3 separate regions of the Homo sapiens genome follow, and regions 1 and 2 are each reported to be linked to region 3. The links are microRNA targets in miRTarBase. Many come from high-throughput screens and were not tested one by one. Region 3 holds a microRNA gene; each other region holds the end of a gene's coding sequence.
Evidence for each region. The annotated mature microRNA hsa-miR-3663-3p reads UGAGCACCACACAGGCCGGGCGC and lies in region 3 at 3,290-3,312, shown strand. An mRNA with a match to its seed (bases 2 to 7 or 8) in the 3' UTR can be bound and repressed. Matches are read on the target gene's strand: a 7mer-m8 pairs with bases 2 to 8, a 7mer-A1 pairs with bases 2 to 7 and ends in A, and an 8mer does both.

Region 1 (5,061 bases), not on the chromosome of region 3:
CAGCGCCTGTCCATCTCCAAGGGCCACGCCTTCATCCTGGTGTTCTCCGTCACCAGCAAGCAGTCGCTGGAGGAGCTGGGGCCCATCTACAAGCTCATCGTGCAGATCAAGGGCAGCGTGGAGGACATCCCCGTGATGCTCGTGGGCAACAAGTGCGATGAGACGCAGCGGGAGGTGGACACGCGCGAGGCGCAGGCGGTGGCCCAGGAGTGGAAGTGCGCTTTCATGGAGACCTCGGCCAAGATGAACTACAACGTCAAGGAGCTCTTCCAGGAGCTGCTGACGCTGGAGACGCGCCGGAACATGAGCCTCAACATCGACGGCAAGCGCTCCGGGAAGCAGAAGAGGACAGACCGCGTCAAGGGCAAATGCACCCTCATGTGAGCCCGGAACGCCCGCCTGCCCGCCGCCCACCCCCACTGACCCCCGCTGCCTCCCCCAACACCGACACCCTCCTCGGCCTCCTCCTCTTCTCTCATCCTTCCTCCGACACCTCGGCTGGGGAAACCGAGGCCACCGCCCCCCCCTCCGCTGCCCCTGCCCACCCCGAGGCAGGGCTGGGGCTTTTCTTCCTCCCCTGCTCTCTCTCCACCCTCCTGTTCTGTCTGTACCCTCCAAAACCAAGAGCCGGAGGTGGCCCCCTTGTCCTGCAGATGGGAAAACAGGATGGGGAGCTGGCAAGAGGAGCTGCTTGTTCCCACCAGGACCAGAGGAGGCTGCGTTTCCCCGTTTCCATCTCTTTCCCTGGGGTGTCCCCAGCCAGACCTGCGCGTCCTGTCCCTCACATTTGATCACTGTGACCTTCTGGGGGAGGGGGGAGTTGAAAATGCACATCGGCCTCAGATATTTTTTTCTTTTTTCTCCTATTTGGTGTTAACATACACCCAAGCCCACCCGGCCCGTCGTGACCTCTGATCTGTGCCCACTCCTCCGGTTCCAGACGCACCTCTCTCCTCTGTCTTCACAGTGGGGTGTGGGGCCCGTGGGATGGGCCTCAGGCCACCAGGCAATAACCACAGGGCCTGCAGCAGTGCCCCTGCCAGCCCCGAATCCCACCCCCGGGACCAGCCACATCCACAGCACAACTGCCCCGCTGGAGAGGCACCATGGGCGTGGAGGGGCTTCCCGGACACCGCCCACCCGGGACCCGCCTCTTCCACCAAGACAGAGACGTTAGCAACGCATGGCGGGTGGGGACCTGGGGTGCTCAGGAGGGGGTACCCGGGGCCCCGGCCAGAGATACATCAATTACACCCCCGTGGGGGGACAGCCGATGGGAGCCAGCACCAGCAGGATCCGAGGGCGCCCCGGACAGAGGTCTGCCCCACCCACTTCCTCCCCACCACCTGTGCCCCAGAGAGCAGGGCCTGCCCGGGAAGGTGGCGTCCTGGAGTCGAGTGTACCTGCAGCCATGAGGTTCTGGGTGTTTTTTGAGAGAGTCTGAGTGACACCACACTCGTGTGACCCCACAGGGTTGTGTCCAACATACACGGAAGTGGCTATGGAATGGTGTATTTGTGCAACCTGGGGTGCGCGGATGGGTGACTTGTATCTAAGTGCATCTGCGTGTATACCTGTGTGTGTCTGTCTGGGATGATATGTTTTTGTGGCAGTCTGTGTGTGTAATAGTGGTGTAGGGTATACAGAGAGGTGGGTAGTTGTAGATACCTGTGTGTGGTTGTCAGCAAGACTGGATATGTGTGAGGTGTCTGTGTGAATCTTTGTGCCTGTATGAGCATGACTATATTTTGGGGAGTGGGTGATATGGTTTATCTGAGAGCATTTATCTGTAAATATGTTTGTCCTGATTGAGGGACACGATCTGTGTTCCACTCTATAGCAACATGACTCTAGCAATGTGACTTTCGGTTCCAAATCTGTATCAGTCAGCTACTGCTGTGTAACAAATGACCACAAATGTAGCAACCAGAAACAACACATGCTTATTATCTCATAGATTCTGTGGGTCAAGAGCCTGGGTGCAGGTTGGCTGGGTCCTCTACTTGGGATCTCAGGAGGCTGCAATCAAAGCATTCGCCAGGCAGAGGTCTCATCTGAAGGCCTGATCGGGGAAGGATTTGCTTCTTAGAAGCTCATGTGGTTGTTGCAGCATTCAGTTCCTTGCTGTTGCAAGACTGAAGGCCTCAGTTCCTCGCTGGCTGTTGGCTGGAAGCTGCCCTTTGTTCTGTACCATGTGGGTCTCTCCACAGCGGGGCTCGGAGCATGGCAGCTAAGTTAGTGAGGGAAGGTGAGATGGAGGTTTTGGTCTTATTGGGTGTGAGGAAGCAACGTGTGTGTGTGCGCACGCCCTTTTGTGCAGTGAGAGAGAGAGAGAGATTGCACACATGTGTCTCTGTAGTCATGTGGCCAGGTGGGACTATGTAGGTAACAGATTGCTCGTGTCTGATTTGGTACAAGCATGTTTGTTTTCCTCTGTGTTCGTGTGAGTGTTTACTCAACAAATGTTTATTGGACACACTCAGAGAGAGGGAGTGTGCACACGTGCGTGTGTGTTGCTATCCAGCACGTGGACCGGGCTCCCAGAAGAGCTGGCATTGTGTCTGAGCAGAGCTGGGTCCCCCCAAAACTTGGGCTGGCCCAGGGCCCACCAGCAGCTGATGTTGCCTCCTCTCCTGTCCTGGCAGTAGCTTCTGGGTTCTGAAGGTGCCGGAGAGAGTGAGGCTGGGCAGGGGTCTGCGGCCCTTTCTCAGGGACACACCCTGATAGCACAATCTCCTTGGGGCCCTGCCCACCTCCAGGCCTCTCCCACCTCAGGCCCTGCCCGACCCTGGGGAGAGAGGGCATCTGCAATAGGAGGGGACCCGAGCCTGTCCTGGCTGCTGGCCCATCCTGCCTGGGCATCCCTGGTGCTGGGGACTGTGCCAGGCCATGCTTGCTGTGACTCCGCCCCTGCCCCCTCTCCCCCCGCATGTGGGTGCCCCCACTCCCCCATCGTGGGGTCTGTGTAGCCTTCGCTCTAGACATAGTCTTCCTGCAATAAAAAAGTGGATCCTGCATTCCCCACCAGCATGGCGCCCTGTCTCTGTGGTGGGCGTGGGGTGTCAGCTCACCGCCTGTAAAGGATCAAGAAGGGTGGGGAGGTGCAGGATGGGGTGAAGGGTGAAGGAGGTGATGGGTGTAGGAAGTGAGGGATGGGATGAAGGGTGGAGGAGGTGATGGGTGTAGGAAGTGAGGGATGGGATGAAGGGTGGAGGAGGTGATGGGTGTAGGAAGTGAGGGATGGGATGAAGGGTGGAGGAGGTGGTGGGTGGAGGAAGTGAGGGATGGGGTGAAGGGTTGAGAAGGTGGTGGGTGTAGGAAGTGAGGGATGGGATGAAGGGTGGAGGAGGTGACGGGTGTAGGAAGTGAGGGATGGGGTGAAGGGTGGAGGAGGTGGTGGGTGTAGGAAGTGAGGGATGGGATGAAGGGTGGAGGAAGTGGTGGGTGTAGGAAGTGAGGGATGGTGTGAAGGGTGGAGGAGGTGATGGGTGTAGGAAGTGAGGGATGGGGTGAAGGGTGGAGGAGGTGGTGGGTGGAGGAAGTGAGGGATGGGATGAAGGGTGGAGGAGGTGATGGGTGTAGGAAGTGAGGGATGGGATGAAGGGTGGAGGAGGTGGTGGGTGTAGGAAGTGAGGAATGGGATGAAGGGTGGAGGAGGTGGTGGGTGTAGGAAGTGAGGAATGGGATGAAGGGTGGAGGAGGTGACGGGTGTAGGAAGTGAGGGATGGGATGAAGGGTGGAGGAGGTGGTGGGTGTAGGAAGTGAGGGATGGGATGAAGGGTGGAGGAGGTGACGGGTGTAGGAAGTGAGGGATGGGATGAAGGGTGGAGGAGGTGGTGGGTGTAGGAAGTGAGGGATGGGATGAAGGGTGGAGGAGGTGACGGGTGTAGGAAGTGAGGGATGGGATGAAGGGTGGAGGAGGTGGTGGGTGTAGGAAGTGAGGAATGGGATGAAGGGTGGAGGAGGTGACGGGTGTAGGAAGTGAGGGATGGGATGAAGGGTGGAGGAGGTGGTGCGTGGAGGAAGTGAGGGATGGGATGAAGGGTGGAGGAGGTGATGGGTGTAGACAGTGATGGATGGGATGAAGGGTGGAGGAGGTGATGGGTGTAGGAAGTGAGAGATGGCATTAAGGGTGGAGGAGGTGGTGGGTGTAGGAAGTGAGGGATGGGATGAAGGGTGGAGGAGGTGATCGGTGTAGACAGTGACGGATGGGATGAAGGGTGGAGGAGGTGATGGGTGTAGGAAGTGAGGGATGGGATGAAGGGTGGAGGAGGTGGTGGGTGTAGGAAGTGAGGAATGGGATGAAGGGTGGAGGAGGTGGTGGGTGTAGGAAGTGAGGTATGGGGTGAAGGGTGGAGGAGGTGATGGGTGTAGGAAGTGAGGTATGGGGTGAAGGGTGGAGGAGGCGATGGGTGTAGGAAGTGAGGGATGGGATGAAGGATGGAGGAGGTGATGGGTGGAGGAAGTGAGGGATGGGAGGAAGGGTGGAGGAGGTGGTGGGTGTAGAAAGTGAGGGATGGGGTGAAGAGTGGAGGAGGGGACCTGTGTAGGAAGCGAAGGATGGGATGGTGGTGGGGAGGTGGAGGGAGTGGGTTGAGGACATGCAGCAGGGGAGGCAAGGCAGGACCCGTCTGGGACTCTGCTTGGAGATGTCTTTATGTGGCTTTTTTCTAGGGTGTTGGTTTCCAGATTCACTCTGTGCACATTAGCTGGGGACATCCTCCCAGCTGGACTTTCTGTGAACGTGGACAATTTCCTTGCAGGCCCAGTGGCGTTGGGGCAGAGGAGACTGTATTAGTCCATTCTTGGAATGCTATAAAGAAATACCCAGGCCGGGCACGGTGGCTCATGCCTGTAGTCCCAGCACTTTGGGAGGCCGAGAAGGGCATATTACCTGAGACCAGAAGTTTGAGACCAGCCTGGCTCACATGGCAAAACCCTGTCTCTACTAAAAATACAAAAAATTAGCTGGGCGTGGTGGCGGGAGTCTGTAATCCCAACTACTAGGGAGGCTGAGGCAGGAGGATCACTTGAACCCGGGAGGCGGAGCTTGCAGTGAGC
Region 2 (5,061 bases), not on the chromosome of region 3:
TTTTTTTTTTTTTTTTTTTTTTTTTGAGTTGGAGTCTGGCTCTGTTGCCCAGGCTGGAGTGCAGTGCTGCGATCTCAGCTCACTGCAGCCTCCACCTCCCGGGTTCAAGCGATTCTGCTGCCTCAGCCTCCCGAGTAGCTGGGATCACAGGCGTGCAGGGTAACTTTTATATTTTTAGTAGATACGGGGTTTCACCATGTTGGCCAGGGTGGTCTCAAACTCCTGAACTCAGGTGATCCGGCCTCCCAAAGTGCTGAGATTACAGGTGTGAGCCACCATGCCCAGCCAAAATGTGCTTTTTAAACGTTGCTGCTAAGATATTACATTTGATAGCTTGGTTTTTCTCAGTGGCCTGAAAATAGTTGATGTAATTAAAGTAACGAGAGTTCAATTGGAACCTCAGTCTCTCTTTTTATTTAAAGAAACAAGATTTGAGATTCTGGCAGCTGCATTGCCTCTTCATGGAAGAGAACTTTTTATTTCAAGGTGGCTGTTGAGCCAGGCCTAATGTAGACTATGCCCCTGGAGTTCGCTGGGTTTTGGAAATGTTTTGCTTATTCATAATGTAGTATTTTCTAAATCATTTAATCCCCCTAATTCTCAAATATGAATGTTGAATAATAGACTGATTTCTGAACTGCCAAAGGAAAATAACCATGATTTGCTGCTCAGAGTTTTAAAAACTGCTTTTCTTTTTCTTAGGTCCAGATAACTCTCACCTCACATGACTGTGGTGAACTGACCAAAAAAGATGTGAAGCTGGCCAAGTTTATTGAAAAAGCAGCTGCTTCTGTGTGATTTCTTCCAAAATACATGTAAAATCTTGTACACATCTTAGCTGCAATGTATGTTGAAGGAAATTTATGTGAACAAATAGAGTTGTTCTTTTTCTCTTTTTTTTAAGACAGAGTGTTGCTCTGTCGCCCAGGCCAGAGTGCAGTGGTATGATCTCGGCTCACTGTAACCTCCGCCTCCCAGGTTCAGGTGATTCTCCTGCCTCAGCCTCCTGAGTAGCTGGGATTACAAGCACGTGTCACCACGCCTGGCTAATTTTTGTATTTTTAGTATAGACAGGGTTTTACCACGTTGGTCAGGCTGGTCTCGAACTCCTGACCTCGTGATCCGCCTGCCTCAGCCTCCCAAAGTGCTGGGATTACAGGCATGAGCCACCATGCCTGGCTGTTGAATTGTTCTTAAGGCATCATATCTAGAAGCAAAGAAAAAAGAAAAATAACAATTTAAGTTGTGTAAATTGTTTGCCTTTATATATTACATTTGGTAAAATCAGTGCTTAAATACGCAATGATTTAAACTGGAACCTGAGGTATTTTTCATGCTATCTAATCATATACCTAAGATAAACCAACCCAGTTACTTATATTAATAATATTCAGAAAGAGAAGTGGCTTTTTTTTTTTTTTGAGACGGAGTCTTGCTCTGTCACCAGGCTGGAGTGCAGTGGCGGGATCTCGGCTCACTGCAACCTCTGCCTCCCAGGTTCAAATGATTCTCCTGCCACAGCCTCCCGAGTAGCTGGGACTATAGGCACGTGCCACTGCGCCTAGCTAATTTTTGTATTTTTAGTAGAGATGGGGTTTCATTATGTTGGCCAGGATGGTCTCGATCTACTGACCTCGTGATCCACCTGCCTCCACCTCCGAAAGTGTTGGGATCACAGGCATGAGCCACCGCGCTTGGCCAGAAGTGGCATTCTTAAATTCAAGAAATTGGGATGGGGAGTATTCACACATTTTATAACCCAGAAATTCAAGCAATTCTGGTGACTACAAATGCATTGTTTTGGAGAATAGTTGTAAGGTGGAAAAAGAATTAGGAACTCGACAGATAGTGAGTTTTAACTTTAAATAACAATTCTTCTTTTGTTTTGTTTTGTTTGAGACGGGGTCTCGCTCTGCTGCCCAGGCTGGAGTGCAGTGGCAGGATCACGGTTTATTGCAGCCTTAACCTCCTGGGCTCAAGCAGTTCTCCCTCCTCAGCCTCCAGAGTAGCTGGGACTATAGGCAAGTGCCACCACGCCTGACTAATTTTTAAATTTTTTGTAGAGATGGGGTCTCCCATCTTGCCCAGGCTGGCCTTGAACTCTTGGGCTCAAGCAAGCCTCCCACCTCTGCCTCCCAAAGTCCAAGGATTACAGGTGTGAGCCATTGCCCCCAGCCAGTATAACAGTTTGTGTGTGTGTGTGTGTGTGTGTGTGTGTGTGTGTTTGACACGGGGTCTCATTCTGTTGCCCAGGCAGTAGTGTAGTGGTGCGACCATGGCTCACTGTAGTCTTGACTTCTCAGGCTCAAGTGATCCTCTCACCTCAGCCTCCTGAGTAGCAGCGGTTACAGGCATGCATCACCACACCTGGCTTATTTTTAAAACTTTTTTGTGGAGACAGGGTCTTACTATGTTGCCATGGCTGGTCTAGAACTTCTGGGCTCGAGTAATCCTCCTGCCTTGGCCTCTCAAAATGTTGGGATTACAGGTGTGAGCCACTGTGTCATAACAATTATTTTAAAATTTTTATTTATTTATTTTTAATAATTATACAAGATGGAGTCTCACTATGTTGCCCAGGCTGGTCTTGAATGCCTGGGCTCAAATGATCTTCCTGCCTTGACCCCCCAAAGTGCTGGGATTACAGGCGTGAGCCACTGCGCCTGGCCTATAACAATTCTTATGAAGCTAAAGTTGATTTGGATTTTAGCTGCCGTTACTACTTATATAATTAATTAGATTAAACAAGTCACAAAAATTGGATGAGCTATCTTGGTGTGTTTTCTTTACTTTTCTCTTTCAACAGAGAGTTGAAGGAGAGGACAAGTGTCTTGTCTGTGGCTTCCAGGAATGTGTGGCAATATAAGATTTACTGTTACAGCAGCCAACTCACCAAGTCATTATTTGACTTACTGAGTTAAGGAGGAACTAAGGGTCATTTTCCCCCCATCATTTGCATGTTTTGACTCCTGAACTGAGGGTCTACGGCCACTGAAGCTAGAAGCTAGAAGGGTGTTAATCAGTAGTGAGCTCTACTTACTCCATGTGTCACTGACAGATGTAAAAAGGAATATCAAGTAATCTATTATTTAAAAATTGTAATAAGAGTGTTTTTTGAAGGAATTCAGGAATGTACTACTAACGAGATTATGATGCAGGTATATCCATCCATGAAGCATTTGTTAGTCCCTTGAAGCATCATGGTAGTGGAATTTAACATGGATCATCTTTGTAAACCCACCTCTCTTTAGGGGCCAGAGAAATCACTGTTTGTTACAACAAGCAAACCTTTCCCTCTCCATGTCACCCTTGCCCCAAACCTGAGAAACATATGGGAACATGGCACAGAGGCTGAGCTCTCTGAAGCCAGTTCCTGGCTGGTTTTGCTGGCCAGGGAGAGGCAGGTGTGGTCAGTTGCCCTGTGGACATGTGGTGTGCAGGGAGAGAAGAGGGAAAAGAGCCACTCAGGCTCTCTGGCTGCCAGGGGATCCAGACTCTTAGCACTAGAACTTCTGTTTCTTAGAATTCTTCCCAAGGAAAAGACAAAACTGTGTTTTTATAAGCTGGTTTCCTATAGTGTAGATTTGGGACTTTTATACATTTTATTACCAAATATTTTTAGTTAAGTGCTTCAATTTTCAACATTAATTCTTTAAAATTTTCTTTTGAGAATCATCACCTGGATTTACATGAATTTTTTAAGCATGAAAAAATTTAAACATATTCAAAAGTACATGAATAGTACATTGAAGCCTTATATACATATCACCCAGATATAAAAATTACCAAGATTTTGTCCCAGTTGCTTCATTTTCCCTGTTTCCTTCTTTGCTAAAGTATTTAAAAGCAAATCCCAGATAGCTTATCATTTCACCCCTATATCCTTCAGTAAGTTTCTATGGAAAATATGGCCATTTTCTTGTATAAACCACAGTACCTCTGTTTTTTTTTTTTGAGATAGAGTCTCACACTGTCGCCCAGGCTGGAGTGCAATGGCGTGATCTTGGCTCACTGCAACCTCTGCCTCCCAGGTTCAGGCGATTCTCCTGCCTCAGCCCCCCGGGTAGCTGGGATTACAGGTGTGCGCCACCATGCCCAGCTAATTTTTTTTTGTATCTTCAGTAGAGATGGGGTTTCACCATGTTGGCCAGGCTGGTCTCGAGCTCCTGACCTCGTGATCGCCCGCTTAGGCCTCCCAAAGTGCTGGGATTATAGGCATAAGCCACAGCGCCCGGCCCACAGTACCATTTTTATACCTAACAAAGTGATTCCTTGGTACACTTAATACCTAGGCAAAATCAAATTGTCCTGAAGGTCATGAATGTCCTTGGACAGTAATCTGGTTCTAATCGAGGATCTATATGAAGCCCACCAATCGCATCTGGTTGTTGTGTCTCTTTAGTCTGTCAGTCTGGAGCAAGCTCCCCTCCCTTCCTCAGTTCCCCATGTTATTTATTTATTGTAAAAACTGGGTCAGTTGTGCTGTAGAATATTCTGCTTTCTGGATTTGTTTGTTTCTTCCTGTGGTGTCATTTAACTTGTTTTACTATACCCTAAACGGAACCCTTTTCCTCTGTTTTCAGCAGAAGTCTGAGAGGCTAAACTTGATGGCTGTGTTAACATATGTCACGTGTAGCACAGTGGAGAAAGCAGGATATGGCTCATAATGACAGTGGTGAAGACCTGCGAATGAAGTTGCTAGTTATCACCTACATTAGGGTTTGACATAGGTCTATGTTATGGGTCGCTGCATCTGCTGGAACTCACAGACTTTACTATAGAGAATCAAAGATCCCGTATCCGAAGTCTATGGAAATGCTCATGGTGGTAAATTCCAACAGAATGAAACACCAAACTTGCTTAAAGTAACTCACGTTTCAATTTGAAAGAGATATTGTCAAAATTGGAGGCCCCCAGGTTCCTGTCTGTTCCAAATCTTTGCATGATGACAGTGGTTTCTCTGATGTGGTAAGCTTTGGCTTTCTTCTGTTTTCTTTCTAAAAGATCACTGGAGTAGAGAGGAGTTAAACAGACATGACCTTTGACCTCTTGCATGACCTC
Region 3 (5,072 bases):
TGTGTGTTTAAAATTTATTCAACAATCTGTATGATTCAAGTATCTTAACTAGATCTTTCTATTGTATTACCTCCAGAATAGTTTGCCTGGTAGCGCAATAGTTTGCCTGGAGATTAATTTCCTATACAACATATTGAAATAGTGCATTGTGAATTGGCTACTATGACTGCTGATTAGGGTGAGGGTTAGGGTTAAACCAGTTTCTGAATCTAGCTACTCCCCCCTACCATAAAAACCACTTGCATTCAACAATTAGCCATTGCATTAAGTGCTAAAGATACAATGATGAGAAAACAGCCATGATTCCTGCCCTCATGAAGTTTAGAACAGAAGAAAGACTATCTGGTAATCACACAAATAAGTAACAAATAAATCTAACGTTTTAACCAGTGATAAACCCTCTGAAGAGAAAGTGCACTGAGGTCCTCTGAGAGCATATGCCAGGGGAATTTGACCCATTCAGAGAGGGTTAATTAAGCTAAGGGAAAAGGCATAAATGTCTCAGGCAGAAGGAATTGGCTATGCAAAGGCCACGTGATGGGATGATGTCATCAACCATTCTTTCAGCAGACAGCACTGACCCCGTGTGCCCAGCCGCATGCTAGAGGCAGGAATACAGGGGAGAAAGACCAGCACTGCCCCCAAGAAAAGCCCACGATGACTGTCGGACCTAGGAGGATCCTTGGAGAACCTGAAAAGGTTTCACATTGCATGGAGGATAAGACTAGAGCCTTATAAGATAAGACATCACTGAGAGTTCAGTTGTTAATCCTGGGAGGGGTGAACTCATGAATGATCACTGGGTGTGGTGGTGCATCCCTGGCTCTAGTCTTACCCTCCATGCAACGTGAAAACTTCTGATGCCCCAACTCAAACCTAATTTTCAAGCCTTCGTTAGCTAAAATCTCACCGAAGTCCAGCTTTAGGAGAAATAACAGATACTATTCCCTGGCTTATGCCAAACTCTTTACATGCATTGTTTTGTTTTTTTATCTTTGTAACAACCATGTGAGATTGCACTAAACTGACACTCAGAGAGAAGGTAAGTCATGCCCCCGAGTCATTCAGCTAATAAGTGAAAAGAAAAAAAAAAATCAAGATCCAAACCCAGGTCATTCTGGCCCTAGAGCTGAAACTCAGTGAAAACCAAGCTCTAGCCAGGAATTGTGGTTAAAATAAAGCTTCAGCCAGCTGGATACTCCAGGGTGTTTAGGAATGTGAAGTTTGTGGGTATATCTTGGTATTGTGGTTGTGTTGATGCTATTGTAGTTTTGGTAATGTGGTCATCTCTTGACAGTACATGCTGAAATGCTTGCAGATTAAGTGTGGCAAGGTCCAGGTTTTACTTCCAAATAATCTGTGTGAATAGGGGAAGCAGTGTGTGTGTAGGTTTTGACAGCTGGGGAGGCAGAGTCCGTGGGAAGGAGGGGAGGAAATAGATTGACCATAAAATAGATTTGCCTTCGTTATTTGGAGGTTGGGGACAGGTGCATGGGAGTTCACTATAATATTCTCTTTTCTTTCCTATATGTTGGAAATTTTCCATAAAATGTTTTTTTCCAAAACAAGTTAAGTTCTGGGTTATGTTTTGATGGCCTACTCCTTCATCTCCAAATCCCATAGACTTTCACAATTATATTTGCCCCCGTAATTGGAAGTTGTATGGGGCTGTTTCAAAAATCTGAGTCATCAAAGATGTAATTGACTTCCTACCGCCGGATTAGCAGGCAAAAATGTACCCGATACTTTCTCTACCGGCGCTGTGTTGGGCTCTGGGCTGAAACCCAGTCTCTCACAGGCCCTCGGAACAGCCCCACCAGTTAAGATCCATCCCTGACTTCCAACTCTGTAACTAGGGACAAGTTAATTGACTCCTCTTAGCCCTTAGTGTCCTCATCAATTATTACGTGGTAATAACCCCTCAGAGAGTCGCCGGGAGAATTAGCTCGGCGCGGTGCATGGGGCTAGAACTCAGGGCCCAGCAGGTCTGACAATGCAGGTTTCCCCGCTCGCCTGTTGGGTTTTTGAAACGCCCTCAGCGGGGTTTTCCTCCTAATTCTGGTTTGGAGGAGCCATCTCTCTCCATCCCGTCTGCCAGCGGGGTTTGCTTCACACACAGACGTGGGCAGATGGCATCGGGGACACAGGTGTGACTGCCGAGAAGGTTGCGGCGCATTGGCGGTTCGGTTCACGGGACGCGGGCGTGGGGTGTGTGGGGTGGGATGGTGTCGGGGGCGGGGGGGGGTGGACAAGAGGGTGTTTGGTGGTGGTTGGGAGTCCCGGCGATCTTTTTAAAATTCAGATGCCAACAGTTCTCCACCCCTGAACTTGAATGGGCTTTGGGTTTTTGTTTATTTGGGGCTTTTCTCCTCTTCCAAAGCACAGCGCTTGCCCCCAGCGGCCTGGCGTCGGGCTGGAGCCCGGCAGAGGGAGGGAGGAGACCGGCATCCGCGCTCGCTGATCAGAGAGAGCCGGGCCTGCTGCTGGGGAACGTGGAGGGGCTCCGGACAGCCACGCGCCCTGGCCGGTCACGGAAAGCTCTGAGGGACATTCGGTCGGCCGTCGGGGAAGAGGCTGGCCGCCGCAGCGCGAACTGGGGGTGCGGGTGGAGCGGCTAGAGGCGCCGGGGTGAGTGGGGATGGAGCCCCGAGGGCGTGGTGCGCGCTCGGCTTCCTGCCGCCAGGGGGCGCCCACAGGCAGAGCCGGGCGGGGCGGCAGCTACAGAGAGAGGGGTGCGTGGAGAGCGACCAGGCCAGGCCTGCAGAGCGCAGCCCCGGCGCCATGTCTCCAGGCTCGTTCCGACTAGTGTTGGGTCACCCTCGGCTCAGCCCCGGGGGAGGACGAAAGGGTTGCGTGCAAGGCCTAGCACCCAGTGGCCATTCATTAAATACGTGCTGGCTGACGAGCTCAGGAACGGCTCTAGGGAGCAGCTGGCTCGGAAACCTCAAGTCCAAGCCCACTCATTCCCGTCTCCCTCCCCGACGGCCTTTTAGTTACCGTGCCCTGGGCCGCGACGGCTTCCTTTTAGATTGGGGCAGCAAGGGAGCCCCTGCGCAGCGAGGACGCCGACGGGGCGGCGGGGAGGGGTTGTCCGGCGGTATCCCCGCTCCGTGCTCCTCGCCTTCCACTGCCTCCCCGGGACACAGCAGTCATGGCTTCGACTGTGACTTCTTAACTGGCTCCTCCCTGATCGCTGAGCTAAGCCACAGGAGAAGGGGAGGAGGGCTTCCTTCCCGGGACCTTGGTCCAGGCGCTGGTCTGCGTGGTGCTCGGGTGGATAAGTCTGATCTGAGCACCACACAGGCCGGGCGCCGGGACCAAGGGGGCTCGACAAGAGGATCTCAGAACAAGCTGAGTCTCTGGAACTAGCTGGGGTGCGTGGAAGTACGCGCCACGGCCCGCGATTCCTGGGAGCGTGTCTCAACTTCTGCCAGTGCCAACGCAGGAGAGAGAATTGCGGCTCAGAGAGGGTAGCGTGAATGGAAACCGAAGGGCGAGAGCTTGGCTCTCTAATGCCACCCAACTTAGTGGTTCAGAGCTTGGCCTCCAAGGAAGATTCAGTTCAAGTCCCCGCTCTCCAACTTACCAGCTGTGTGATCTTGGGGGAAGTTAACCTCTCTGAGTCTGTTTCCTGCTCTGTAAAATGGAAATTTAAAAACTTAAACATCTACTTCGGTCGAGGCTGTTGTGAAGAAGTGGGATTGTGGGTGCATAGCTCTTAGCACAGTGCCTGGCACAGGTTAAGGCTGGATACGTGGCAGCTGTGAGGCCCAGTGTTCTCGTAGCTGGCCTGGCCAGATGCAATCATAAGCGAAGATGACTCACTTCCCACAGCAGAGGTGTGCGAAGCCCTGCGCACCTGCTGTAGTCTGCACCCGGGCAGAAGAGAACCCAGGAGCGTCGGGACCTCCAACACTCAGCCCTCAGGGCTGAGGACACTGCGCTGTTTCTGCCCCTTCTAAAACCGGAGGCCGCGATGCCCCTGTGCAGTACCGGCTGGCGCCCACCCTACAAGCTGATTCCTGGGGGCCTTTCCTGCAGCGGACGCCGGCAACCATCACGACCGACCTTGACTGAACACATGTGGGCATCCTAAGGACATTACCTCAATCCTCACACCATTCCTGAAAAAAAAAAAAACAAAGAAACTGGTGCTCAGAGAGGCGAAGTAACTCACTCAAGGTCACACAGCTAGAGGGTGGCCAAGCTGGGACTCCAACCCACTCTGGCTCCGGAGCTGGCGCCGCTTCCTTCCTACCTCTCTATCAAGCTCAGTCTCAAAGCCTGGGACAAACCATCCGGTTGGGGTGGGAAAGGCCACGCACGTCCTGGGGTCGAGGACCCTGTGCCCACGACAGCAGTCTTCTCGGCACCCGTAGAAGCCAGTGCCAGACAAGTTGGGTTGGAAGGGGCAGGCTGGGCTGGCGGAAGGGGGCTCTGGGCCCCGCCCTGCCTGCGCCCCCCGCGGATCACGCCTCCGTGCTCAAGCTCCTGCCAAGTTTGCCCCCATCTCTCAGGTGCCCTTGGACTGAGTGACTAAGCACCTCGGCACCTCTCCAGCCTGGGGTGCGAGGAGGGGCTGGCCCTGATACCCACTTCCTTTCTTCTCTGGAAAGCCAAGGTGCCAACGAAAGATGCCCTGGAAGCTGGTGTTCCTTAAAGAATGAACAGTCCCAGCTCCAAACGTGTCTCTCTGAACGCAAGCCTCTTCCTTCCGTTCGCCTGGGCCTGTAGTCGAAGTCTCCTTGGGTCCCCAGCCCCCTCCCGGGTAGACGTCAGCCTGGAGGTGGATGCCGGAGTCGAGAAGGGTTGCGGACCATGCTGGGGACCTGGCTCAGGCAGTCAGGGGTCCGGGTCCTCTTTGGGGAAGTGAGCGCTTGAGGAGGAGGGAGAAAGGCTTTTGAGTACGGCTTGGGGGGACTTCTTGAGGTCCCTCGGGATAGCTTCTCTGTTAGGCGTGTAGCCAGGAAAGGAGAAAAAATCTGTCCCGCGCAGCCCAGGGAGGAGCCTTGCAGCTGCGGAGGGGGGCACTTTCGGCGCTGGATACCAGGGGGCAGTGCTGCGCAGCGAAT

Region 1: miRTarBase lists DIRAS1 as a target of hsa-miR-3663-3p. Seed matches in the 3' UTR shown: 8mer at 1,203-1,210.
Region 2: miRTarBase lists PCBD2 as a target of hsa-miR-3663-3p. The part of its 3' UTR that is shown has no 7-base or 8-base seed match.

Annotation. Positions count from the first base shown.
Region 1 is chr19:2,712,533-2,717,593 of GRCh38, reverse strand. DIRAS1 (DIRAS family GTPase 1) reads left to right here. Exons shown (of 2, transcript NM_145173.4): 2 at 1-3,027. The coding sequence ends at 384. Among named protein-coding and RNA genes, the nearest start is that of DIRAS1, 6.3 kb to the left of the region's middle.
Region 2 is chr5:134,959,884-134,964,944 of GRCh38, forward strand. PCBD2 (pterin-4 alpha-carbinolamine dehydratase 2) reads left to right here. Exons shown (of 4, transcript NM_032151.5): 4 at 703-2,761. The coding sequence ends at 798. Among named protein-coding and RNA genes, the nearest start is that of CATSPER3, 5.5 kb to the right of the region's middle.
Region 3 is chr10:117,165,935-117,171,006 of GRCh38, reverse strand. MIR3663 (microRNA 3663) reads left to right here and starts at 3,233; the gene lies at 3,233-3,329. It overlaps MIR3663HG (MIR3663 host gene), which reads left to right and starts at 1,952. Exons shown (of 3, transcript NR_121651.1): 1 at 1,952-2,147. RefSeq lists an enhancer at 4,860-5,072.